7 linked regions of the Homo sapiens genome follow. The protein of the gene in region 6 purifies or fractionates together with the protein of the main gene of each other region. This does not show direct contact. Each region holds a gene or a part of one and is shown on either strand. Other genes may lie near its edges.

Region 1 (4,078 bases), on a different chromosome or scaffold from region 6:
TGGGGTCTTCCTCTATGTGGCCCTTGTGGACATGGTGAGAGATGTCGGGTAGAGCAGAGAAATCAAGGGCAGTGGGGAGGCGGGAGTGGAGAGGGAGGTAGCAGTCCCTCCGCCTCTACCATTAGCTCCTGGAAGGGCGTCAGACCATAGGCCCGCAAAAGTCTGAGAAACAAGGGACTAAGGTGTTTGGGTGGGGGCTGCTGATGCTTTCTGACACCATTCCTCTGGAGTTGAGAGGTCAGGGGCAAGGCCAGAATCCTGACATCCTCTTTTTCTTTCAGCTACCAGCCCTGCTTCGTCCTCCGGAGCCCCTGCCTACGCCCCATGTGCTCCTGCAGGGGCTGGGGCTGCTGCTGGGGGGCGGCCTCATGCTTGCCATAACCCTGCTGGAGGAGCGGCTACTGCCCGTGACCACTGAGGGCTGATGGGGCCAGTGGAAAGGGGTCGGGTTGCCCTTCCTTCCCCCCAACCACAGGAATGGAGGCGGGACACAGGGCCAGTAGGAGCAATAGGATTTTAATAAACAGAACCCATCCCAAAGCCATGACTACGACAGTTGTACTTGCACCAAAACAGCATAGAAAACCAGAGTGTGGTGGGAGGACCCGAAGCCGGTTGGGGGAGGATGTGAGTAGGGGCCTGGAGGGTGCAGGGTCATTAATCTGCGGGGAGAACATTGTGCTTTAGCCCAGGGAGGGGAGGGGTGGGGCAAATGCACCGAGGTCCCCACTTTTTCCTGCTGCCCTCGGCACCCTGGGGATGCAGGCATCTGGGCACATCTGCCCCTTATTGCTGCCCACCAGCGTTAAACGCCCCCGATCCCAACACTAGCACCACAGGTGGTTCCGGGGCAGGGAGAGGCAGGAATGGGAAAATTGCTTAGAGAAAGATTCCACTAGAATCCAGTGAATTGTGCTCAGTTCTCTTTACTTCCTACAACCGAGTACATGGGTCACAGGGTGGAGGGTGCAACAGGACATGGAACATGCCCCTCCGTGCCCCCCAACACACACCTGCACACAGGATGGTGGTGTCTGCAGCATCACAGGTCATGCAGGGCATGGGGAAGGGGAGGTTCACACACACATAGATGCCCACAGCGGGTACCAGACGGAGAACACCCCTGAATATACATAGCTGTACATGGGGAACCCCCAGGTCCCCACCCCAACCCTCTCCCCTGTCTTGCTGTCCCCCGCAGGGGAACTATATTGCTTTGAGAGAGCCACCCCAGGGGCTGCTCTGCCAGGCACCCTCCCCTCCCACCCACCCCCATTTTGGCACATCTGCAAGACACACAGCAGCGAGAGTAGGCACCCTCCCTTCCCAGGCTTCTGTGGCCTGGAGCTGGAGAAGGGGGTAGGAGACTTCATCCTCCATCCTCCCCTAACCCTTCCCAAACCCCTGCCAAACCCACTCAAGCCAGAACCCACCCCCACCCCCCAAACACACATACAAAGCTGAGCTATCCAGGAACACAAGGGAAACAAGGAGATTGTCCAGGGTGGGAGCGGAGGCAGCGGGGGAAGAAGACTGGAAGCAGAGACCTCCCCCCTTGTGGGGGGCAGACTGGCACAACAGCTACTTTAGTGCAATTGGAGAGGGTGCCCAGAGTGAGAGGTGGAGAAGGGAGGGAAGGCGGTCCCCAACTTCCCTGGGGGCAAAGTCAGGCTTCCAGATTCCCCAGGGAAAGGGCCTAGCAGGAGTGGGTGAGGGCCAAGGTGGATCCTCTGGTTACCCGCCACCCTCTGCCCTCCCAAATGCAGTGACAGTGTCCCCCTCACACCTAAGTGGGCAACAGCAGCCTTGGAGTCAGTACCTTCAAGTAATTCAAAGAGCAGACCCTCCCCACCCCAGCTTCACCCCATCTCTGGGATTTGGTCGCTTCTCTAGGGGTTGGGTTGGGAGGAGGGAGCCCCCAAGGCAGACCCTTCCCTCTCTACCTCCCGATTCCCAGACCACTGGGCTTGGTCCTCAAAGATTCCTCACCTCCGCCCTTGCCCAACCTGGGTCAAGGCTGCAGAAGGCTGGAGCCACCACAATTAGAGGGGAAGGGGCTGCTTTGTTCCTTATCCCTCCTTCTTAAAAGGTAGGGTTCAAACTAGGCGGGATGGGGGCCCATACTGGTTTGCCCCAGGAGTAGGGTTTCTGGGCTAGGGTCTGTAAGGCTATTTTCCTTTGCGGTGGGAAGGGGAGGTAGGGGATGAACACTGGGTATGGGAAGTGGGTGAGAAATGGCTGAGAGGGAAGGAGGAAGGGGCCTCCCCGCTGGAGCAGTCACTGGAGTCATTTAGACAAAAACACTCATGTGCATAAGATACACAGTGCGCAAACTCAGCCCTGCCAGCCCGGCCCCAATCCCACCTCTCAGGACTCCTTCCAAGACCCTGGAGGAGGTTCTGGGGATACAGCTGTAGAACCGTTCACTCTGGCCCCATCCACCCCACCTCCAGCCTCTTCTCCCCTTCTAGGTCCAGGGAGTAAGAAGGTGCTCGGGTGGGCAGACAGTGGTGGAAACAGTATTGAGTTTTCCTTTGGTTACATATTGAAGGCAAAGGTGAGCTGGACTTACAGTCAAAACGGATAGGGGTGAGGAAGGAAGAGGGGCCATGGCTGGGGTTGGAGAGGGAGGTAGGCCCTCCTCAGCCCCTCCACCCCAAGAAACACATCTACGTGGGGTGGCAGTCCCTCAGTCTTTTCTCTCCCACGCCCCACAGCACCAAACAAAAGGAGAAGCCCCCTCCCCCAGGGGCTGCTCCCCACCCCAACCTGGGCTGTACATTCAGTGGTTTTCAGCAGTCCTATGGCTCAGGGGGCCACGGGGCAGGGGAGGTGGCCCGTCAGTCTCAGTGGACAGTGGCAGTGACCCGGGTCTGCTGGTCCTTCCTGGGACCCACGGTTTGTGCCATTCGTTTTTCTGAAGGATAGTATATGACCCTACCAGAGCCACCGCCCAATCAGAAATAGCTCCCCCAAAATCAGAAACTAAAAACTGGCTCTTTCCATCTCACCCTCTGATTCACACGTCTGTTTCCCTGTCTCCTATGTCGCCCTCGCTCTGTTTCCTTTGCTGGGACCTGGGGCTGCTCCCAGGGTCCTCGCTTAAAATAGGCCTTTTCACAAAAGTGCTTATTACTTGAAGCAAGTGCTTTAGGGCTGCGGTGGGGAGAGGGGGGAGGGGGAGGGCAAAGGGAAGGCGCTGTTCCCTCCCCGCCCTCCCCCATGAAGACTGGGGGGCATTCTGCCTGTTTTACTTCTCCACACCCGTTTAAGTCAAAGAGGTTTAAAAAAAATCTTAACATTAAAATAAATATGCAGTGGCCATGAGAATGGTCAAAATGCTTCAAAAAACACTAGGGCTGGGGAGCCCAGGGTGGGGCGTGGGGTTTCCTTTGGCATAAGGAGAGGAGGCTGCTTGTCCCCCAGGCTTCCTCACAGCCACATATGGAGGGACAGAGGACTCCCCACCACCTCCCAGCACTGCTGACAGTGCGCTGAGGGCAGCAGGGCGCAGACAGCCCCCAGAAATCTCATCTAGCAAGACAACGGGGCTCTGACACTCAGACGCTTCCCGCCATCACCAAACATCACGAAAGGAGAACACGACTCACACCCGGCAAGTTCTCTCTGGAGGACCCATCTTCTCACTCCCCTTGCCCCCCACCACCTAATTCCCAGCACCAAGATGAGAGGGAGGGGGTGGAATGGGAAGATTTCAGGAGAGAGAATTGAAGGGAAGGCAAGCTTTGCAGAGCCAGCAGGGTTGGGGATGGGGGCTGCAGCCCTTAAGAGAGGTCACATTGATTGTCATATAGGGGAGGACACGGTGTGGAGGGAGGTGGGCAAGAGGGGCGTCACAAGGCCCTTTGGCTTTGAAAATAAAAATAAAAACTAAAAGCTGCACAATCCTTCTCATCAATAATGGTCATTTGGAAGCCTTGAAATGATTTAGGAACTGAGGGTTGGGAGAAGCAAAACACAGAGAGACAGGGGATCAAAAGGGACCATGAAAAGATAAGGACTTGGACAACACCCCAGGCTTCTGGAAACCAGCATGAGGTATGGTTAAAGGTATCCG
Region 2 (3,500 bases), on a different chromosome or scaffold from region 6:
AACATTGAGCTGTCTTTTATTTGACTAGCCCAACATGATGTTTTTCCAGGTTAAAACTAGAGATGGGCTAGTATGGAAATACTCAGCTTCAAGTTGTATTGAAGTCTAATTGATACAGCGGCAAAAAGGGCAAATTGGTGTGTTGCTAGACTAGAGTTTGGCCATAAAGATGGGCAGCACCCTGCTGAAACTCATATGGAGCTCTTAAAAGGTCTTTTTACCTTTGTTTAGGTCATCAAAATTTTATTGCTGAGGTGGTGTGCTCTGTCACCCTTTTTTGGGAGTTGCCTGAGGTTCAAGGCACAGATCGTGAAAAAACCAAGGTTTGGATTATGTTTAGAAATGAATCTATTGGTTTATTTTCTTTCAGGCCTCTAAAGGGAAAGCATTAAGATCCTAGTCTTGGCTTTCTCCTTATAGGCCTGAAAAAATAAACTGACTTAGGTAACAGATTTCATTTATAAATACAATGTGAATGTTGATTCTTCCACGCTGTCAAGCCCATGTTCAGAAGCATAAAAGGTAAAGGATTATAACTAGAGAAGTCTAAAATCAGATCTTCTAGATTTTAATCATCTACACATTTTGTTGCTTAGCTCTGCAGAGCTCTGTCATCCGTAAGTATGCTTTTTAAAGTCTGCAAGCATCTGGAGTTTGTATGTCTGTATCTAAGTTAGTTACAAAAAAGTCTTCTGTGACAGAGCAGCGTTGAAGCATTTAGTAACAATAAAAACAACCAAGACAAGTAAAAGTGGAGAGAATTTCTTCTCTTTCAGAGCATTATGGCAAAGTATCTTGACCTCTTTTCATATGGCTTGTGCCAACTTCTAATATGTTATAGTTGTTTGTATATATGTCTTATCTCTCTTAGTGGATGAATGTCTTTGAAATCACAATCTGTTTGTCATTTATTTTTGTGTTTTACCCATAGTAGCTGCTCAATAAATATTTGATTGAAGGAAAAACTAGATGGTGGTGTTTATACAAGAGAAATCCTTTTGCAGAAAAAAAAATACTGGGAGAAAGAATAAGAAACAGAAGAGATAAAAGCAGAGAGAAAAGAGAAGAATGCAGTTGAGATAAATAACATATAGTAGGAGCCATTGTGTTGCTTGACAATGGTGATGAAGGTGGTACATGTAGATAATAACACTGGAGTAAGACACATAGGATTGAATATTTCTGAAGTCTTCTACTGACATCAGCCACTTGCATTTTAATACTCCTACACGTTGTTCTCCAAACTTAAGCCTGTATCTCATCAATAACAATTTGGAATTTCATTCTTTATGGATATTTATGTGTGTGTGTGTGTGTGCGTTTATATGAATACACTACTTTACTAATTTTTATGTACATTATAAAGCACGTACAAAAGAAATAGAAAATTAAACAGAAATACAAGTTCTGTTATTTTTCCTGCACTCCAGCGGACCATGTCATGCACACACCTAGGGTATATGCTTCCCACTCTGGCAACTGCTCATCGAGGCTGTAAGAGCAAAGTTGTGGGGCTTCTTAACTATGCGTGTGTTTGGGTCAAGGAAGAAGAATTTTACAGTGGCCTCCAGTACCTCAGCCATCCCTGACTGGGAACCTGAGGCGTGCTATTTAGGATGGTTCACTAACCTTTGAGTTTAGGGAGGATAGTCACTGTAAATGGTACAAGTTCAGTTTATTCCATTTTGTGTCATGCAGCATTGACCATACTTCAGGTCACCTTAGGACTGTCTGTCATTGTGAACATGACTTATTATTCTGAGTTTTCTAAGTTAGGTAGTGATAACTGAAGTATATGCTGTGGAAGAAGATCAAGGAGGTAGCACGTTTTGGGAAGAGTTACATATGAAAAGTTAAAATGTTTTAGATATAGTGGACTTACTTTTCAGCTATTCAGAAGACATATTCAGATAAGTTTATTTCTCAAAGATACCAAGTATTTTTTAGAGTCTTTATTCTTTAAAACTGGGCAGGTGTAAATGTAACCAAAGGATCTCATTTACTTAGTAATAGCAAGTTACAAAAAGTTATTGTAAGAACCCAAATAGAGAACTTTAGGGTTTTTAATCAATCATAGTTTGTATTTTTCTTTTATCGTGATGAAAGGTGGTTTTGCTTTTTGAAAGCCTCTGTTTTTTTAAAGATATTGGACCATTATTACTCTAAATAAAGGTAAGTTTGTAAGTTTAGAGTGATGAGCACTGAATCTAGTTTAGGTTATTTCAAAAGCTATTAAATGTGTATATTGTAGTTTTTCAAAATTGTATAATTTTTTCCTCCTTAATACTTGACTGTTTAAAAATGTACAAGAAAATAAATTCCTTCTCTGTTTAGTTTACAGATGATCCAACTCTTGCAATTTGCAACGACAGCGGAGGCTCTGTTTTTGAATTGACATTTAAGTAAGAGACTAGTGGACATTTGTTGACAAATGAAAAGACTAGCTCTGTTTTAATGATTTGAAATTGAACATGAAGAGGACTAGAAAGCCCCTGTAATTGAGAGTAGATTATGACTGTGTATTACAATTACCTGGGAAGGCTTATATTAATAGAACAAACAGAGTTCTGGGCCTGGTCCTCCCGAGTTTTATCTCAGTAGGTCTGAGTTGAGATTCTAGACTCCTACTCCCCAGAAGATTCTTATATGCTGTCAAGCTTGGGACCACTCTTCTGGAATAGCTCACTAATTTTGGTTTAGGCTCAAGGCCCAGTTGATTTTAATCATAATGGGCAGGTGTAAACAGGTTTTTAATTATCTTAGAATTGCCATGTTTGCTCTTTAAGAGCAAAGACTGTCTAGATACATCAAAGAACATTTAGGAAGCAGAGTTTTTTGAAAAGTAGAACATAATATTCATTGAATATTATGTCTCCATAAGTTCTTCAAGGTTAACAACTATCTTTGTTTCTTGTGTTTCTCATAGCTTCTAACAATGCTAAGTACAAAGTAATTTCTGAAAAAAACATACTTCTTATTCAGTTAATGTTTATTGAGCATCTCCTATGTGTAGGTATTTATCTAGATCCCAGAGTTATAGCTGTGAACCAAGCAAAGTTTCTGCTCTAAGAGAACTTACATTCTAGCTGCAGTAAGGGTAAGGAAACAGCAAACCAGCACGTAAATGAAATCACCTCAGATGGATGTAAGTGCTGTGAAGAAAACAAGACAGGGGATTGCACTAGGTTGTACTTGAGGATAATTCTGGAATGCCTTTCTCAGAAGGGGCAACATCTGGAAAAATAACTGAATGGTGAGCCAGTCAACAAATGCACAGATCTGAGGAAAATATTCCAGGCAGAGACCATTCAGACACAAAGACTTTGAGGTGGCCACAAACTTGGCATGCTAGAGCAATGGAAGAAAGCAGGTGTGGCTGGAGTGTGACTTTGTCAGGAACACAATAATGGGAGAGGAGTGAAGGGAGAGCCAGATCATATCCTTTTAAGACATGGGAAAGAGTTTGGATTTTATTTTTTATGTACAGTAGCAAGCCAGTG
Region 3 (4,286 bases), on a different chromosome or scaffold from region 6:
TGTCACGATGGTTCACAGAATACCCATAACACGATAAAGCCCTTAGAGTTAATTTAATTTAATTTTTTTTTGAGACGGAGTCTGGCTCTTTCACCTAGGCTGGAGTGCAGTGGTGCGATCTCAGCTCACTGCAACCTCCACCTCCGGGTTCAAGTGATTCTCCTACCTAAGCCTCCTGAGTAGCTGGGATTACAGGAGTGGGCCACAACGCCCAGCTAATTTTTGTATTTTTAGTAGAGATGGGGTTTCACAATGTTGGCCAGGCTGGTCTTGAACTCCTGACCTCAGGTGATCCATCCGCCTCAGCCTCCCAGAGTGCTGGGATTACAGGCTTGAGCCACCACGCCCAGCCCTTAATTTTAGACAACGCAGAAAAACTGGCTCCAGATACACTTGGGTGACTTGGTCAACATATGAATGTTAACCATGATGTGACAGATCAGACTTCAATTTCTTTAGACTGAACTAGAATGGCTCCGAAGACGAAAGTCAGGTCAGGACCAGGGAGAAAAACTGGGCAAATACGATTTTTTTTTTTCCATTTCCAACAGAGGTTTGAAGATTAGAACCAGGATTTGGGAAGCCTCAGTTCAGGAGTCCACCGAGGTGTGTGTGTGTTGACAGGTGGTGGTGATGCCGAGGGCGTGTTGACAAGTTTTCCCCGCCCTTGACCTTTAGCCTAGATATTAATTCTACCAACTGGGGCAACCCCAGAGGGAGGAAGCCAGGGTCCCCCAACAGGCTGACAGCGCGTGACCTTTGCCCTAGATAGCCTGAGAAAGCTGATGAGAGAAGGGGCGAGAGGTGCCTACAGCCCCCAGGACCGGCCTTGTCCCTTTTGCCCTAACTCCTCCACTTATCCCCACCGCCCGTTTCCTCTCACCCAGGCAGGACAGCTTGGCTAGCGGCACCAGCATGTTCAAAGTCACCAGGACTCTCGGTCGGACACAACAGGAGGACTGTCCGCTGCTCGCGGCGGGCGCTGGACCTCTAGGCCGCGGGGGGCGCCATCACCTGCCGGAAAGCAAGAACTCTGCTGCAGTTCGCCTCCCCGCTCTGCCGACCGCTCTTGCTTCACGGCGTTCCCACCTCCTTCTCGCTCTGCGCCGGCGCCATGGATGACGCAACGGCCAGCCGAGGCTTCCGGGTCATGTACCAAACCAGGGAAAGATAAGGGACTCCAAGTCCCAGCCGGGGAGCGGTGAAACAGCCACAGCGCGGCCAGAGGGGTCCGCGAATCCCACAGCACGACGCACGCGCAGTGAAAGGCAGTAGAAGGCGGGGCGACGCACACGGCTTCCTGGGAGGTGTAGTTTTCTCTACGAGTGCCCTTCGAGATCGATTGGAGGCTCGCGCAGGAGCCGTGAGTTGCCTAAGGTGAATTGACTCATATGATTGGCTGTCCCGAAAAATGAAACGTCTTTGTGGTCCGGGGCTGAGACCCACGAGGAGACTGGGCGGGATTTCTGGCGTTAGGAGGCGGGGCCTTTCGGCTTTGGGCGCGAGTGGTTAAAAGACAGTTGGTGTCGGTTCGGCTTCTCGGGTCGGATTCCGCGGTCCCAACCCTTCCCCATGGCCGACCCTGAGGAGTTGCAGGTTTCTTCGCCGCCCCCGCCGCCTCCCTCTTCTCCCTCCTCTTCAGACGCCTCTGCAGCATCTTCCCCGGGCGGCCCAGTGAGTTTGGGCTGGCCAGTTCCGAGCAGGAGCAGCGGCCCAACGGTGGACCAGCTGGAGGAAGTGGAGCTGCAGATCGGAGACGTGAGTGTGGTGTCGGGACCGCGTCCCCCCTCGGCGCCTCTGGGAAGACCGGCGGCGGCGGGGCTCGCGAGGCTAGGGAATCGGTCCCCCAACCCCCATGACCCGGGACGACCGGCCCTTCTGCGCCCCAGAGCGTGCGGGCGGGAAGCGGGGGGGATGCCAGCAGCTAAAGTGCCACCCCTCTCTGAGGGTTCCCCCTTTAGATTTAGTGGTGAGGAGTCTTAAGGGGTTTTCCTTCCACCCGCCCCACCCCTCACTGGTTTCTTTTTGTCTCGCCTTCTGGTTTCAATCATCCGCAGTAACCCGAAGCCACGCAGCTCTGCGCTGCCTGTTGCTGGCTCTCTGCCTCCTCCTTTCCCATCGGAGAATAGTTTTCATTGCATGGGTTTCGGAGAATAGTTTTCACTGCATGAGTTTGCTGGCTTTCTGTGGGTACTTGAGATCAGGCTGTGATTTCTTTCCATGGGACTTAGAGCCTGCTGTTCTAGTTGGCCACCTGCCCAGGGACAGCTGATAATGCCATTGTCTGCCCCAGGCCTGCTTAGCGCTGGACCCAGCTTGAAGGGTTTAGGTCACGTGGATTGGCTTCTTTGACGGTTTAGTTCAGGACTCCTCCCTTTGTATGATTGCTAGAATGCATACTTAGGATAGTTTCTGTTAAATCTCGAATCCCCAGAAACTAGCACCCCACCTCCCAACCGTAACTCACACACCACTGGAGGGGAGAAGACAGGGAAGGGGAGTTTTATGTTCTCTTGAGTGGGTCAAGTGGAATGAGGTATGTAGAGTGTAACCTGGGAGAGTTCTGTGGCCTGACCTTTCCTGCAGATTGGAAACTAGGGGATGAACTAGATTATCTCATTGCTCCGCAAGTATTTTTTTTTAAGGATGACTAGAGTGCTTAACCAGCTTTTATTTTTGCAGAACAAACTGATTGCAAGTAAATATGTAGAATGAAGTGCTAATGTGTTATTGAGGAACACTGTTTTATTTTATATCATTGGTGAAGAAAACGTTTGGCTGAAAAGTGAATTTTCCACCAGGAGCTGAGTGTTTTCTGCATTTGTGTGTGATTTTTTAATGTTATTTGTCAGAGCTCAGAGTTTCTGTTCTTTGATCTATACATTTTCATTGTTTAAAGTGTTCACAGGTCAATGCCCATGTTACCCAAATAGCAGTAAGAATTATTTATGATGAAATCTCTCAGATATATCTGGCGCTTAGTGTCAAGGGGTCCAAGTCATCTTGTTGAGCTGAGACTCTAGTGTATTTTCATAGAAAACAGCAATCCTGGGCCAAGCACGGTGGCTCACGCCTGTAATCCCAGCACTTTGGGAGGCTGAGGCAGGCGGATCACCTGAGGTCAGGAGTTCGAGACCAGCGTGACCAACATGGAGAAACCCTGTTTCTACTAAAAATACAAAATTAGCTGTGCGTGGTGGCGCATGACTGTAATCCCAGCTACTAAGGAGGCTGAGGCAGGAGAATCACTTGAACCCGGGAGGCGGAGGTTGCAGTGAACCAAGATCGCGCCATTGCACTCCAGCCTGGGAAACGAGCGAAACTCCGTCTCAAAAAAAAAAAAAAAAAAAGAAAACAACTATACTGATTTGTCATATCTCAGACATAATGGATATTTTTCTAGCAGACCTGTTTCTTCAAAGTCTACTCAATATTAAAGAATTTCTTAGGTTCCGTGAAAGAGCCAGTGCTGTAGTTTGAAAACTGATTACTTTGAAAGAAAATAACATGGGCATTGGATTCAAAGCCTTAAGCTATTTTCAGCCTGCTTATAAAATGAGATGAGAATTTTAAAAATAAAATTATGTTTGACTTTTTTTTTTTAGGCAGCCTTTTCATTAACCAAACTTCTTGAAGCCACATCTGCAGTATCAGCTCAAGTGGAAGAACTTGCCTTCAAATGTACAGAAAATGCACGTTTCCTTAAAACGTGGCGGGACCTCTTGAAAGAAGGCTATGATTCTTTGAAACCTGATGACTGATTTGGCATACTTCGTTGTTTAATAATGACTGCAATAATTCATACTTCTTATGTCATATTTTGTACATGTACCACACATATAGGATGACCTCTGTCCAGCAGTTCTGTATATACTCAGAATGAAATTTTTCTTGGTTTTCTTGGTTTTTGTGAAAGCAGAATACCGATGCTATTTTTGTTGCGGACCAGTACTTGTTTGTCCTTAAATACTTTATGCCTCTGAACTTTCATAGAATCCTTTATGAAAGTTAACTTCATCAATAGACGGTTAATATTAATAGAGCCACAGTGCTACCAGTAGCAAACTAGGTAGACCATTATTTGTTTTGCAACAAGATGCTAAGCATGGCAGACTTTGAAGTTGCGTTTCATCTTAAGGACCAAGGGAGGTAACTTTAAGGTTGCCAGTGGTGGATCCAGCTCCGTTAGGCTAAGTTGTCTACAGCTAATGATTGTGTCTTTATTCTATATCCCCAGCACCTAAAACAGGGTCACACAACATTCACTAAATGTTTGTTGAATAAAA
Region 4 (3,500 bases), on a different chromosome or scaffold from region 6:
AACAAGAGCAAGAGTCCGTCTCAAAAAAAAAAAAAAGAAGCACTGAAAGAATGTTTTGGGGAAAAAAAAACTAGTTAAACTCCTAGAAGCAAATTGCAAATTACATCAGAGAAACATACAGAACTCTTCTCTTCATATTGCTAAATCTGAGATTTCCAATCTTCTATTTTTATCACATACATTTCTTTAAAAAAAACTTTTTTTTAATGGAGACAGGGTCTCACTTGTCCAAGGCTGGAATGCAGTAGTGTGATCACAGCTCACTGCAGCCTTGAACTCCTGGGCTCAAGTAATCCTCTAACTTTGGCCTCCCCTAAAATACTGGGATTACAGGCATGAAACACTGTGCTGGCCTAAAAATATTTTAGAGACATCATCTAAAATATGGAATTGGAAACATTATGGAATTATTTTTACATATCCAATTGGGACAATATCACAAGTGCTAGGTTCAGATTATTTCCAAGGTCTTTAAAGTTTATACTGTGCACAGCAACACTGATCGGCATGATTTAACATTCTTTTAAATCATGTTTCAAAAGTTAAAATTTTGCTTTTCTTTTTCCATTCAAAATATTATAATTATCTTAAAAAGAAATGTTATAATATCAAAGGCACCAAATTAGCAAAATCAAACAGGTAGGTTTGTTTGTTTGACCACCTTTTCCATACAGCTATTATAGTATGTTCTCACTGAAGGAAAGATCCTGGCCACTGTCCTAGATAAGGTCTAATACTATAAGTGGGTATCTTGAGAGAATCTGAATATACAATCCTAGATTACAATATGGCTTTACACTCATAAGGTGGAATAGAGAATATAAACTGGGTAAAACATCAGAACTGCAAAGATTTTAGTAAACAATACCAAAACCTTTATATTGTATATTGACCTTGCATATACTCCTGATAATAATCCAGTAGATTCTAGCTGTCTTCTGGAAGCTTGCATACAAGTAAACACTGAAACTATTTCTTAGAGCTAGAATAGATACGGTAGAAAAACAGGCTGGGGATTAAAAGTCTTTGATTCTTATTCTGCCCCTGCCACTGCCATGTGCCCAGGGCAGGTTATTTCCTCTCTTGGCCTTGGTTCCCTTAAGAGAATAACCCTTCTAACTTTTAAATTCCATGATTCTAATTATTTAATATACTGCTAGTAAGTATGAAAAGACTAAAATCATATACATCAATGTGTCCTAGGGAATTTCATACACAATTCAAGGTTATTTTTGGACACAGAAAACTGAGTATTTATCAAGTTCTGTATTCAAAGAAGCAGAAAATGAAATCTGTCTTTATATATAGCATCTTACAGTTGTTTCTTAGACTTGCTGAAGTAATCATATTTAGCTTGCATCTCAAGCCTTATCCTAAATATCGAGGAATAAAACCACATCATGTGTTAAGAGGTACTCCAAGCTATCTGGTAACATAGAAATTATGTTAAGACAGGAAAATACATACATATCTTAATGGAGATGAGGTGATAAAACAAGGAGTACAGCAGAAGAAATTTCATCAGGAAATGCAGCACAGATGAAATGTGAATTGAAGTAGAGCCATAACCAAAAACAGAATGAAAATAAACCAAAATGTAGTAGTTAGTTTTAAAATATTTGGCAATAAATTTGTGAACCACCAACCAAAGCTTCAAGTGTGGAAATGAGGACTGGGGTAATAAGGAAAATGTTGTCTATTTTTTTTGGAATCATGATTATATGCTATCTGGCTTCACCCTACGTCCATTTCTACCATAGACAGTGACCATCATTACCAAACCCACTGACCAGCAAAGAGATACAGGTGAATGGAGTGGAGGAAAGCAGCAGTGAAAAGAGGAAGAAAAGTGAAAAAAGTATCATATGCAAAGTACTGTTCCTTTAGGGTCTTGTAGGAGATGGTGTGGTAGATGTAAACCAATCAAAAATAAAAAGATGAAATTTCATATCAACTTCCCCTCCACTCTTAACTCAAGACTTAGGGCTTACTTAGATGTCTGCCTACTGAAAATAATCACACATCTTCATGTCCGTTGTAACAGCTGGCCTCCCACACTGGCCTTTGCAGCCACGTCCACATATGAGGCTCATTATGAAGTAATGAGAACATGCATATAGGACACAAACAAATATCCACCTCATTACTCTTTGGTCACACATGTATCTCAATGGCCTCAGCTCTGAATACAAAGCACATAAGCAAACAAATATAACAGCATCAGTTAAATTCTGGTGGAAAGTAAGTAGTTTTTGTAGTTATTATATTCAATTACACCTAATTACTAGAGTTAAATGATATAACAGCACTTTGTGAGATAATGCTCATAACCAGTTAAATTTCTACAGCCCAGTTTGGCCAATATACGCTGAGTGATTCCCCATGAATCCATCTTCTTCCACTGAAATAAATTAAGGTTAGTTTTCACCTGCTCCAACTATAAACAGATTTAACTTTAAAAAGTATAGGTAAAGTATGTGAGACATTTCAAAATGGGTAGGGAAAAAAAAGAAAACATTGATTATTTCATTTAACTCTGAAAGGAGTAATAAAGCATATACTGCTTTTCTTCAAGTTCTTAAGGGCTTTGAATTATGTGAGGATATTTAAAGGTTAAACACATGCTTTTAGAAGCACAATGTTAATTCCTATACTTTAAACCAGATACTTCCAGATAATTTAATTTTGACACACACATCCAAATATAGCACCAACTGGAAAATTAAAACTCCTAAATCAGCTCAATGAATTCCTAGTTTTGAAATCACTATTTTGCGCCAGGACTCTAATTGGAAGTATGTATAACTTCTGATTTTCCATTTACTATGCTAAATAAAACTGTTTTATAGACCCCCCACCGCCGCTGCCCCGTATATCATAACTTTTGTTTTGAATGAGTATCTTGGGAAGACAACTAGAACCTTACTTTTTTTTTTAAAAAAAAAAAGGAGCCCCCAAATATACAACATGCTAATGCTATTAGAAATCTGGATCCAATTTACCTGAAGCAGAGCCATGAGCTGAGGTCATACTTTTGACCTTGGAGTCTGAGAGTCGAGAGATACTGTTAGCTCTAATTCTAGGAGAAAATTTATCTGATGGTACTAGTCTGGCTCCACTTCTAATGATGGCTTCTGCGGTCCTCGAAGAGGCACTACTTCTAGAAATTGTTGCTTCAGAGTCACTACGAGCTGACAGTGAGCCAAGTCGTGTTCTACGAGGCTGAGCCAATAAATCAATCCGAGAGATGTTACGCCTTCCTGTGGGAGGTTTTGATGTAGAACTTGTTGTGGATACTTCAGAAGCAACAGATGCTTTGTCAGCATCAGCAAGTTCACTGTCTGAAGCTTCACCAAGTCGTGCTCTGCGCAAGAGGGAAGTCCTGGTAGGTCGTGGCCTTGGAAGGGTGGTTGATTTACTAGATGAACCAGATACCACCGGAGAAGTCTTAGATTTCGTTACTTTACTTCCTTCCAGTTTGGAATGTACATGCTCATCAG
Region 5 (3,500 bases), on a different chromosome or scaffold from region 6:
TGCCCTCCTAGCTCTTGACAGTCTATGTGATTCTTGTCTCCATAAGTCGTAGATGGGTATGCAACAGAGAGCTATTCTGAAATGCTTTTGACCTCCTGTGTGGAAAAAAAGGAAGCTAGTTTCTTCTCTGTGGAAGTCAGGTGGCCAGTTCCCATTCATTGTTTTCTCCCTGTGTCTTCCCAGTAAAGTAAACTCAACTGGGCCATGCTTGGGAACTCATGCAGAGGATGATGGCACTTTAGGACTCTGAAGCCTTAGGATGGGGGCATGGAACAGAGCCATGCCGAGGAGTTCTTGAGCTCCATCAGAATTATGCTTCTTTGCCCTTTTCCCCTAAATCACTGCTTTGTATCATTTAAATAGTAACCCCTGGCATACCAGGAGACCTAGCCTCTGATTAATCCAACTTTCTATACCCTCCATATGGCTTTTCCTGGGAAGCAGGAATGTATGGATTTTTAAAAGTTGATGAGTCCTAAAAAAAAAAAAATTAACAGCAGATGGTTGGAAATAATTTTCTGTCTTGGTTGCAGCAATGACCAATGATAGTATGTATACCCAGAATACCATAATACCTTGCATTTATCTAACAATTACTGTTTATAAGATACTTTCATATACATTGTTACTTTTAGCTTAGGCCTGGAGAAAGGGATGTTAAAATGTTTCCTGCAACAGTGTATATTCCAAAGAGGAGATACTATGTACAAAGAAATGTTTGGCAAGTGAACTAGCTGAATTAGGCTATGTTGTAGTGGCAAATTCTGTGGAATTTAGAAGTCCTAGCAAGGAAAGAGAGATATTAGCTGAAGTGAAAGGGATAGCTTAGCAGAGACATGTCTGATATGTGTCTCTCAACAGGATGACTCAGTTTTGGCTTTATAAAAAGGCCTTCTTCCTCAGAGAGTCAGTGTAAGTTTGTAACAAGGGAGGTATTGCTTTAGGCCAGGAAATAGATAAGTTGGAGGGAAATTGGTTAGTCTCCGCATCTCTCATTTTTCAGTCTGCAACATATTCATTCCCAAGGCCTTGTTACACAGGCTCTCATCATAGCCATGCTGCCTTTGAGTGACTGCCAACTGTAGTAGCATAAGGAAGGGCAGTACTTGTGTCCAAGTTCTGTTATTGATTAATATTCGTCCTGTCAGATTTCATTTTGGCCTTGTCTGATTTCTCAAACGTGTCCTGGGACTGTAGACTGATACAGGCATGTATGGTTGACCTAGCACTGTCTCACAGCTAAGCCTCCAGCCAGAGATATTTGAGTGTTCTCAAGATCAGCAAGCACCAAGGTTACCACATGGTTGCTAAACCCCTTGCTAAATATCACTGGTGTCTATCAATTATACCAATAAGTATTTCTTCAAGCATGGCCAGTCCCTTTTTGCTTATGATTTTGGCAGGTATGGGTGACAGGGAGTGAATTTATGGAGTGACTGTACTGTTTACCAAAAATCACCCAGTAAGTTAGTGGCACAGGTGGCTTTAGAACTGAGCTGCCACAGTGGGAATCTGGCTTAGCAGGAAGAGATTCTCATAGCTATTTAAGTCTTAAAAATCTACAGTTTCTCAGCAGAAGGGTTAAAATGCTAGATAGTTTGACTGATTGTTGTAAAGACTGGTGGTCTTAATTTAGTGGCCCTTTACCCTCCTTGAGTCCAGTTATATTTGTCTTAGAAACTTAAGAAAAAGATCCCATTTGGGATGTCTTGTTTAATTGTCCAATTCCTGTTGGTTCTGTATGTGTCTGTGCCAACATCTCCTGATTAGGCACAGAACTTAGTGGGGTGAAGCATATGCAGTTTAACCCTCCATGTCTATGCGCATAAGGCAGGCTGTATCCAGGCTGGATATTTGGCAAAGAATAATTGGTGCTGTTGACCCCTTAGTCCCAAGCTGTTGGTTTTTAGTGAGTAACACTGAATCCCATCCTTTTTTAGAGTTGCTGTAGCTATTTGATTTTTTGTCTTCTTTACAATATATTAGAAATCTAACTTCAACCAAATATGGCTTACCCGCTTTTGGTTCACTGTTTGATTTTCTTACTTCCTCTCTCCTTGCTAAAAGTGTAGAATGACACACACTCAGAAAGTCCTGAGCTTTTTGTGAAACCCCTTGCAACTCACTGAATACACACTGTTGCATTCCGGTTGTTATGTGATGAATTTGTTTTAGAGAAGACCTGATGGATTTGAGAAACTTGGCTTTCTGTTTTCCCCCTTGACTTCACACCAGACACACCTCCTCATTCTCCATCTGTTGTCTGGAGCACTGATTATCATTCCTGCTTGGAATTGAAGTTGGTGGGTAATGGGTACAATAAGGGATCCAGCCATCTGCTGACAGCTTATCAGATGGACTGCGTCCTGTGTCATCAGTCCAGGGGGATACAAGGGGATGATGTTTATATGGGCCTCACTAGTGAGGCATGACATTCCTTTTTAGTTTGTTTCTCCCCCCAAGGAAATTTGCAGAGAATTTTTCCATCTTTCATTGTTACAGTCATTGGGGGTGTCCATATAAAGAGAGGTGCTGTGGATTGGTGAATTAAACAACCCACAGGCAGCCCCAGGATTTAAAATTATGATGCTAGTTTTGCTCATGGCTTGCTACAGGAACCTCAGCAAACTATTTAACCTTTTCCTATCTCAGTCTTCTCTGTGAAACGGGCCACATGGAAATGAAGCATTTGAATTCTCTGAATAATTATGTGGTCACTTAAACAGAGAAGCTGGGCAAAGCTGGTCAAAGATGGCAGATGACCAATACAGTTTCAACTTCAGACTCAGAAACCGACAAAGCTCAACTCCTTATACCTTTCTTGATAGCTTCTAGAAGGCATTCCTCTAATCATTTTTGTTACTTTTCTCTGGATCCTTGCCTGTGTCTGGATACCTTTCTGATGCATGGCATATAAAACTGGACACTAACTCTTACCAGAGGTCCAGCCTACACCAAGCAGAGAGGAAGTATTTTTTTCCCAGTCTTTTCATGCCTTGCACCTGTTAATACAACTCAGCTTGCTTTTAAATAACAGTATGTTGCTGGCCCCTACTCAGTGGATGATCCACAAGCTCACAGAATTTTTATTCCTTTGCCACAGATGGGCCACCTTCTTCTCAGTCTTTGTGAGACTTGTTTTTAGTTTCCTCCCCCTCTGTAAATACTCCCCTGAAGATTCTCCTCTACGAAACCTTTCCATAGGAGCCTGACCTGACTCCAGTAACACTTTTTGTCCTTTCCCAGCCGTCTGAATACATGTCAGAATGTTGGGCTCTTTAATGAATACCTTTGTATGCATGTAGGTAATCTGGTGTTTGGCCAGATCATTTTTTTTTGTTTGTTTGTTTTTTGTTTTTTGTTTTTGCATGTTTCTTTAATGTTTCTCCACCATTAGTGGGAACACTTTTTTAAAGTAAAGGAGTAGTGGATTTTTCCTTTGTAACTCCTTGCAGAGCTGAATATAATACTGTATATGCACATTAATTGTTTAATGTGTA
Region 6 (4,219 bases):
GGTAGGTCTGTGGTCTTTTGGGAATCACACTACACAACAGAAGGCAAGCTGGCAGTGAGCGGGCATTACCGCCTGAGCTCCCCCTCTTGTCAGATCAGCAGGAGCATTAGATTCTTACAGGAGCATGAACCCTATTGTGAACTGTGCATGTGAGGGATATAGGTTGTTGCATGCTCCTTAGGAGACTAATGCCTGATGATCTGAAGTGGAACAGTTTCATCCCCAACCCCACCCACGGAACAACTCCCTTCCACAAAACCGGTCTGTGGTGTCAAAAAGGTTGGGGACTGCTGCTGTACACTTTAGAATGCTTAGCAGCATTTCTGGTCCTCAAACTACTGTATGCCAGTATCCTCATCACCCCCAGTTGTGACAATCAAAAATGTTTCCAGACATCGCCAAATGTCCTGGTAGGGGGTGGGGAGGAACCATTCCCTGTTGAAAACTATAGTTCAGCAGGATGAAAACAAACTACAGAAATACAGAGGCAGAAGAAAGAGCATGTTTCCCATCAGTGTATTTTAAGATGTTTTAAGCTTCTCAGGAGGATCTTTAGATAATTTGGACAGTTTTCCTGTATAAGAGTGGTGGAAACTGCAGCAATGCAGCATTTCGGACCTGATCTCTCGCCATTGGCTTCACTCTACCTTGCTCTTCACGTGGAGGTCAGCTAGTAATAATTTCAGTTTCTTTTGGATCTCGGTCAGAGCATCAATTTTCTGCTCCAAAATGGACAAAGACCGGGCAATGCAAAAATCAATATCATGGTGTACTCCACCAGCTCTCTCCTGGATGTTTTCCAGCCATTGGCTAGATCCCTTCCCTGAAATTGTGGTATCCTTCCCTAACAGAGTGGGTAATGTTTCAACCTCTTCAATCTCTTTCTGCTCCTCACTCTGTACATAAGGTATTTTAATAAATTCATCCCTCTGAAGGGACATTTCTGAATTTCCGATGTGACTTTTTAACATCCTTGGTGCCTCATGTCCAATCGGATAGTGGCCACGATGGTAGGGCCTTACATCTACATTTAATTTTTTTACTCTGTTTGCATATCTTAAAGTGTTGAGAGTGTTTTCACAAGAGGTCATCCCCGGAGAGATGGTAGCAATCATGCAAGTGGAGGAGTTCTGGCCTATAAAGGAGTCCCGGAGCACCAGTGTGAGTTTGCTGGCTCTGAATGGGGTGTGAGGCTTGTTCTGACCCAAAGCCAGAATACATTCTTTGAGGGCTAGAAGACTCTTGTTAATCTCTGCCCCTTCCAGCTGCCTTTTCCGGCTGGCCTTGGTTGTATCTGCTCCTCTTTCATTCCCAGCTAAATCAACGAGGGAAAACTTGCCATGCATTATCCGTCCTGACTTCAGGATGATCTGGAACACTGCATGGCTCCTGGATGAGTGAGCGTTGACAGGTGTTTGCCTGGAAGTCCGACAGCTATTCCCTATTTCCACCAGGTTCAGCACTTCCTCCACACAACACACCTCTTTCTCCTGCAGCCCGACCACTTGGATTTGCTGATTGCCATCCTCAAGGACTTGCAGCTTCTTCTTCCAGTTCAACAAATCATACACCTTGCCCCCATAAATCTCAAAAAATGTCCCATAGACTTTGAGGTCCAGCTTCTCATATGTGGAGTTTCTGAGCAGGAGAAAGACATCCTGTGCCACCAGAGCATAAATGCCCTTAGAACAATCTTGGGCCGTTCCTGAAAAGTCTCCACCCATGGTGTACGTCTTCCCACTTCCCGTCTGCCCATAGGCAAAGCAGGTGGCCATGCCCTTGCGGAAGATGGACTCCACCAGTGGCTGGGCGGTGAACTGGTACACCAACTCGTTGGAGGCTTTGTCATCGAAGGCATGGTCGAAGCAGAAGGTCTGGTTCTGCAGGTAGCGAGTGAGGTCCACCTTTTGCTTGGACTCATGCACCATAACCACATTGTCCGAGGGGACGGTGATGATATCCAGGTCCTTTAAGGTTGTCTCTCGCTGGTTGAGAGGCCGCTTCCTCACGCAGACGCAGATGCGATGTTCTTGCGGGGGCTCCAGGACTGAGATCTTGCTGCTGTCCAGGTGCCTGCGATACTCTTCGATCATGTGCATGATTTCGTAGTTGGGGTTTCTGGTATTGACATCGAGGGCGCGTCTAGCTCGGATCTCCTGCTGCAGCCGCCTGCGCTTTTCCCGCTGCTCCTGCAGTTTCTGGATTTCCCAGAGGCAGGGAGACTTTTTCTGCTTCATCAGACAAGGTTTGCTGGGGACCCTCACATCCAGGCTGTCCCCTGAGGCTGTTTGGTTTTTCTGGGGGATCATCGCAACCCATTTCGTGGCGGTACGCTGGTCCCTGATGGCCGAAGAGGGCGCCAGAGCCAAGGGGGATAAGGGCGGGGGCGGCATGGGGTGTTCAGCAGAGTCCAGAGCTGGATTCAGCAGGAGTATGGTCTCCAGGTCAATCTTCTTGCCTTTTTTGACTGCTTTCTCCACCCACTCTACCGTGACCCAATAGTTTTCTCTGTTGATCTCCGTGACCACAGCGAGGTGGATCCGCTTGTCACTGCGCTGGATCGCCACGTAGATGCCCTCTTGGATGTCTCCGAAATGTGGCTTCAAGGGTTTCAGGGGCGAGAGACATGGGGATTCAGGGAGGCAGAACTGGCTGGCCATGGTGAGTGATGGAGGTATCAGGGAGCGCTCCAGGGCCCTTGGGGTTGGAGCAGCAGGACCCAAGCCAGCCTGAAGCGCCCGGAGCACTGAGCAGGGTTGCAGTCTGTGCCTGCCTTTGTGAGCCTAGCGCGCCGGGGCCCGGACTGGGGCCACTACGTCACAAAGGGATGAGATGAGGCGGCAGAACCTAGGGCTTAGGAGTGAATGGTACGGGAGCACAAAGGGATGGAGAGATTGTTCTCTGCCAGTGAGGGTGAAGGGGTTGGAGGAGGATGTGGCGTGCTCTCCGGATCATGGCGAGAAAGAACAGGTAACAGAGAAGCAACGGGAACCATGGCGTTGAAATTTAATTTATATGTCCCGTGTACATTTATGCCTAAGCATAAAAGGAGGCCTTGGCTGGCAGTCTCAAAGCTCAGTGCTTTAATTTGAGAATTGCTATGAAGTTTCCTTAAACTTTAACTCTCCAGTGATCAGTGGGAATAGATGAAGGTAGAGCTATTTGCAAATCTCAGGACTCGATATTCAACAGGATCCCAGAAAGGCTCCTCAAACCCGCCATCTTTGTTTTTTCACCTCCTTCAAAACGTGTAACTTGTTTAAGAGTCACAACTTAAAGTTATTACAGTTTAATCGGCTTTCTCATTACAAAATCAAAATGAGTAGAATGTAGCAGGTCGTTGTGGTAATTTGCTAATATGAAACTACCTTTCGTACAGCACCTGGGTTTGCAAACACAACATGTGTATCACATTCCAAGTGGCTCTGACAGCTATAAAGTGAGTTTTGTTGTGCTGTGGTCACCACCATTTTTGAGATTAGTTCAGTAATTACCTTTCCAAACTCCTTCAGTAATTACACTTCTGGCCTCATTATCCATAATTGGGAGAGAAAGAAAAGGCATTGTGTGGAAAGAGATAATTAATCTTATACTCCCCCCACCCCTGCAGTACTTGTGTGTGTCCTTTAGAAGTTGTTAAGCAAGGCTGGAAGGCAGCTAAGACCATCGGATGCAAAAATATATTTTGCCAAGATTGCAATATTTTCATGCATAAGAATTAGCTTATAAAATAAATGACATTGACTTTTAGACAGGCCAAGCTCAGAGTAAGGGTGATGCCTTACGTTCAGCTCACTAGCAACACCCGTGCATGTTGTCTTTTGGACTGTTGAATTTTATCATAATTATAGCTCCAAAGTAACATGAAGTAGCAAGTTACAACCTTCCCTAGGAATAAGGGCCTCTATAGAAATAAATTCTACTATAAACTAACTTTTCTGTTCAGTCAGTCTAGTAAAGCTTAGATTTTGAAAAGAAGGTGGAAGGAGGATACTGGATAAATTAGATAAGTAAGCAGTGCTCATTTCAAGAGGAGGTTGTATGCAGGTGGAGGGAGAGGAGAAAGGGCTTTAGGCAATTGTCTTCTAAAAAATATCATGTTTTATTTCCCCAAATTATCAATACTTAAAGTTGTGCTTTAAATCAGTTGTTCTTTCTTGGTTTCAAGGCCATGATGTAGATATTCTTAATACACTGTATTTGTCATTAGCACTCTGTC
Region 7 (3,500 bases), on a different chromosome or scaffold from region 6:
TTCTTGGGGACCAGAGGAACAGAGGGAGGAAAGCAGACAGCCTAGGACAAGGCAGACCAGGCCAGCTAAGGGTCCAGGGCCACCCCTTACCTCACATTGCGGTCCTGGCAGGCCACGGCCACGTACTTCTGGGTGATGTCAATGTCCATGTCATACAAGGTGGTTTTCTCTGCTACGTGGTGGGTACGGACAAAGTGTAGTCCATCCGAACCCTGGCAGGGCCGGCAGGACCTTCAGAGAATGCCCCGACAACCCCCCACCCCAGCCCCCAAGGAGGCCATGCCACCCTACCTGCTGGGCACTGCGAAAGTAGATGCTCTTGTCAGCCCCACAGCTGATCATCTGGATGTCTCTGTTGCCTAGGGGAGGAGGACGCTGTGTGTTAGGCAGGGCTGGGCCACATGGGCAGGGGACCCTAGCTGGGGAACTCCACTGCAAGAGCCATCAATCAACTGTGCTGGGATCAAGGCTTCCTAAAGGTGGTGAGGTGGGTGCTGGGTCTGGGTGGGACTCTGTAAGGTATGAGCTGTACGTGTGAGGGGGCACAGGTGGAGCTGTGGCCAAGGCAGGCTCTGCAGAGCAAGGGCATATAGAGAAACAAAGGCTGGGGACAAAGAAGGGACACCCTCTCCAGTCTGGGATTGAGATAGGTGACTTGAGTAGCGGAGTAGAGGCAGGACTGCAGCAGCGACCAGTGGAGACAGGCTGGGAGGCTCGTGCCATCAGGATCAACTGCAAGATCCACATGAGCCTTGGGCCAGGCCCCATGCATGTAGCGGGTCTTCCTGAATGCTCACCACCCATCCCACTGGACAAGCATGAACACAGAGGTTCACAGAGTCCTTGTCCCAAGGCACACAGAGAGGACAGGGGCAGGACTGAACCCAGGCATTCTCTGGTGCCAAGGTCAAAGCTGTTAAACACTGCTCTGAACCTGGGCCTCCCCTTTGAGCCTCAACTTCCGGTCCGTACAATGGGCATGGTGACAGTTCCTTCTCTGGAGAGTGATGTGAAGCCCTTGGAACAGGGACTGCCACATGGTAAGCATTAGAAACATTCTTGCTTTTATTATTCTCATTTCTTTTTTTTTGAGACAGAGTTTCGCTCTTGTTGCCCAGGCTGGAGTGCAATGGCGTGAGATGCCCCCGGCCGTCTCATTTCTTTACAGAATAACAGTTTGGTGAGGATGAAATGACAGAACAAATATAAAACTCTGAGTCTGGGCACATCACACATGCTCCTTCATGACAGGACATTTGAGAGGGTCCAGGCCTGACATACAAGTATTAGATGTTGCTCAAGGAGGAGTCATTGGCTCACAGAAGGGAGTGAGCCCCATATAAGGGAGGAAGGGTAACCTGGGAGGGACCCAGAGAAGGCCTGCAAGCCTCTGGTAATGTTCTGCTTCTTAACCTGCACGTGGTGAATCCAAGTACCGTATTTAACAATATTACGACCATGAGCAATTAGAACAGTCTCTGCTATCAACAACGTCCTAGTTCAAACCTTGCTCCTAAGAACTGTGGATACTCACTTCGGCCACCACGCCCAGCTTATTTTTTATTTTTATTTTTTTTGAGATGGAGTTTTGCTCTTGTTACCCAGACTGGAGTGCAGTGAAACAATTTTGGCTCACTGCAACCTTGGCCTCCTGGATTCAAGCTATTCTCCTGCCTCAGCCTCCCAAGTAGCTGGGATTACAGGTGTGCACCACCATGCCCGGTTACTTTTTTTGAATTTTTAGTAGAGACGGGGTTTCACTATGTTGGCCAGGCTGGTCTTAAACTCCTAGCTTCAGGTGATCTGCCTGCCTCAGCCTCCCAAAGTGCTGGGATGACAAGCATGAGCCACCACGCCCGGCCTATATTCTTCTTTTTTTTTTTTTTGAGACAAAGTCTCGCATTGTCACCCAAGCTGGAGTGGAGTCACTGGCGCAATCTTGGCTCACTGCAACCTCCGCCTCCCGGGTTCACACAATTCTCCTGCCTCAGCCTCCCGAGTAGCTGGGATTACAGGTGCACACCACCATGCCTGGCTAATTTTTTTGTATTTTTAGTAGAGATGGGGTTTCACTATGTTGGCCAGACTGGTCTCGAACTCCTGACCTCATGATCTACCTGCCTTGGCCTCCCAAAGTGCTGAGATTACAGGTGTGAGCCATGGTACCTGGCCATTATTCTTTTTTTTTTGAGACAGGGTCTCACTCTGTTGCCTAGGCTGGAGTGCAGCCTCCACCTCCCAGGTTCAAGCAATTCTCCCACCTCGGCCTCCTGAGTAGCTGGGATTACAGAAACAACACCCCGCCCAGCAAATTTTTGTATTTTTAGTAGAGACGGGGTTTCACCATGTTGTCTAGGAAGGTCCCGAACTCCTGACCTCAGGTGATCCACCCTCCTTGGCCTCCCAAAGTGTTGGGATTACAGGTGTGAGCCATTACACCCGGCCCCAGTCATTATTCTGTATACTGTACACAGATACTGTATTCACTTGTTTGGATATATATTTTACAGGAGAGTTGAAAGAATGAATCCTTTTTTAGCAGGGTAGCTAGCAAGGCGCAGGGAGCGGGAAGAAAGGGGCTCACCAGCGAACTTGATGGCGGTGATGGAGGAGGAGTGGTCATCCAGCGTCTGCTCCAGGTTGTAGTTCTTCTCCACGTTCAGCACATGGATCAGCCGGTCCCGACTGGCTGAGGCCAGCAAGGTCAGCCCTGTGAGAGGAGAGAATGAGACTGGTTCCTGAAGGCTGCGTGGGTGCCCTGGCCTCCCAGAAGGGCAGTGTGACCAAGCTGCCCAGTCCTCGGAGAAGGGGTCTTTGGTTCTTCAACTGTAGCCAACTTGGCCCAAGCCTGGCAAGGGCCACTCCCTTAGCTCTGTGTGGTCTTTCCCAGAGCCCCCACACCCTGGCATTTCACCTCCTCACCACCAGCTCAGGGAGGATGAGTCTCGATGGGCGCATGGACGCTCCTCCAGGGACATCCACAGCAGACGCCCCAGCAGAGCCCAGCGCTCTTGCCTGCTGGGTCTGTGCTGGGTAAAGCCCTGGCAACCTCTCAGCCTCTTCCAAAACCAGTGTCCTCTCACCCTCTGAGGTCTGGCTACCTGGGCCTTGTTCAGGTCCTATTGACTGCCTGTGGCCAGACTCCCATCTGCCACCAGCCTTCCCTACTCTGGTCACTTGCTATGTCTGAGGCCTAATAACATGACCTGAGGCAGAGGGGAGATCAGGAGAGGCGAACCGAGTGAAGATATGTTTCAAGACAAGTTGGTGGGGCACACAGCATGGGGGATGAGAGAACGAAAGAAGAACATGGGGAAAATCACATCAGGATATAACTCCACCAACTCTGTAACTCCCAAAGTGCTGGGATTACAGGCATGAGCCACCGTGCCCAGCCTAGAAAACATCTTGAGGAGCCGGGCATGGTGGTTCACGCTTGTAATCCCAGCATTTTGGGAGGCCAAGGCGGGTGGATCACCTGACGTCAGGAGTTTGAGACC

What was found.
Region 1: the proteins of KIF2B (region 6) and ANKRD52 purify together in Homo sapiens (affinity purification with mass spectrometry; one large-scale study listed by BioGRID and IntAct). This does not show direct contact.
Region 2: the proteins of KIF2B (region 6) and VPS8 purify together in Homo sapiens (affinity purification with mass spectrometry; 2 studies listed by BioGRID and IntAct, with this or other methods). This does not show direct contact.
Region 3: the proteins of KIF2B (region 6) and C4orf46 purify together in Homo sapiens (affinity purification with mass spectrometry; one large-scale study listed by BioGRID and IntAct). This does not show direct contact.
Region 4: the proteins of KIF2B (region 6) and CEP170 purify together in Homo sapiens (affinity purification with mass spectrometry; 2 studies listed by BioGRID and IntAct, with this or other methods). This does not show direct contact.
Region 5: the proteins of KIF2B (region 6) and TMEM164 purify together in Homo sapiens (affinity purification with mass spectrometry; 2 studies listed by BioGRID and IntAct, with this or other methods). This does not show direct contact.
Region 7: the proteins of KIF2B (region 6) and WDR62 purify together in Homo sapiens (affinity purification with mass spectrometry; 2 studies listed by BioGRID and IntAct, with this or other methods). This does not show direct contact.

What each region holds. Positions count from the first base shown.
Region 1 is NC_000012.12:56,237,307-56,241,384, forward strand, and holds the end of ANKRD52 (serine/threonine-protein phosphatase 6 regulatory ankyrin repeat subunit C), read right to left. Parts: 3' UTR 501-4,078; downstream 1-500. Other genes in the region: SLC39A5 (zinc transporter ZIP5 precursor), read left to right, coding at 1-34, 282-425. UniProt on the Homo sapiens protein: Putative regulatory subunit of protein phosphatase 6 (PP6) that may be involved in the recognition of phosphoprotein substrates.
Region 2 is NC_000003.12:184,850,166-184,853,665, forward strand, and holds part of VPS8 (vacuolar protein sorting-associated protein 8 homolog), read left to right. Parts: intron 1-2,334; coding exon 2,335-2,402; intron 2,403-3,500. UniProt on the Homo sapiens protein: Plays a role in vesicle-mediated protein trafficking of the endocytic membrane transport pathway.
Region 3 is NC_000004.12:158,669,088-158,673,373, reverse strand, and holds the start of C4orf46 (renal cancer differentiation gene 1 protein), read left to right. Parts: upstream 1-1,486; 5' UTR 1,487-1,572; coding exon 1,573-1,758; intron 1,759-3,605; coding exon 3,606-3,761; 3' UTR 3,762-4,286. Other genes in the region: ETFDH (electron transfer flavoprotein-ubiquinone oxidoreductase, mitochondrial isoform 1 precursor), read right to left, coding at 884-917.
Region 4 is NC_000001.11:243,161,282-243,164,781, forward strand, and holds part of CEP170 (centrosomal protein of 170 kDa), read right to left. Parts: coding exon 3,003-3,500; intron 1-3,002.
Region 5 is NC_000023.11:110,006,114-110,009,613, forward strand, and holds part of TMEM164 (transmembrane protein 164), read left to right. Parts: intron 1-3,500.
Region 6 is NC_000017.11:53,821,475-53,825,693, reverse strand, and holds KIF2B (kinesin-like protein KIF2B), read right to left. Parts: upstream 2,768-4,219; 5' UTR 2,661-2,767; coding exon 639-2,660; 3' UTR 501-638; downstream 1-500.
Region 7 is NC_000019.10:36,085,897-36,089,396, reverse strand, and holds part of WDR62 (WD repeat-containing protein 62), read right to left. Parts: intron 2,711-3,500; coding exon 2,585-2,710; intron 360-2,584; coding exon 292-359; intron 213-291; coding exon 91-212; intron 1-90. UniProt on the Homo sapiens protein: Required for cerebral cortical development. Plays a role in neuronal proliferation and migration.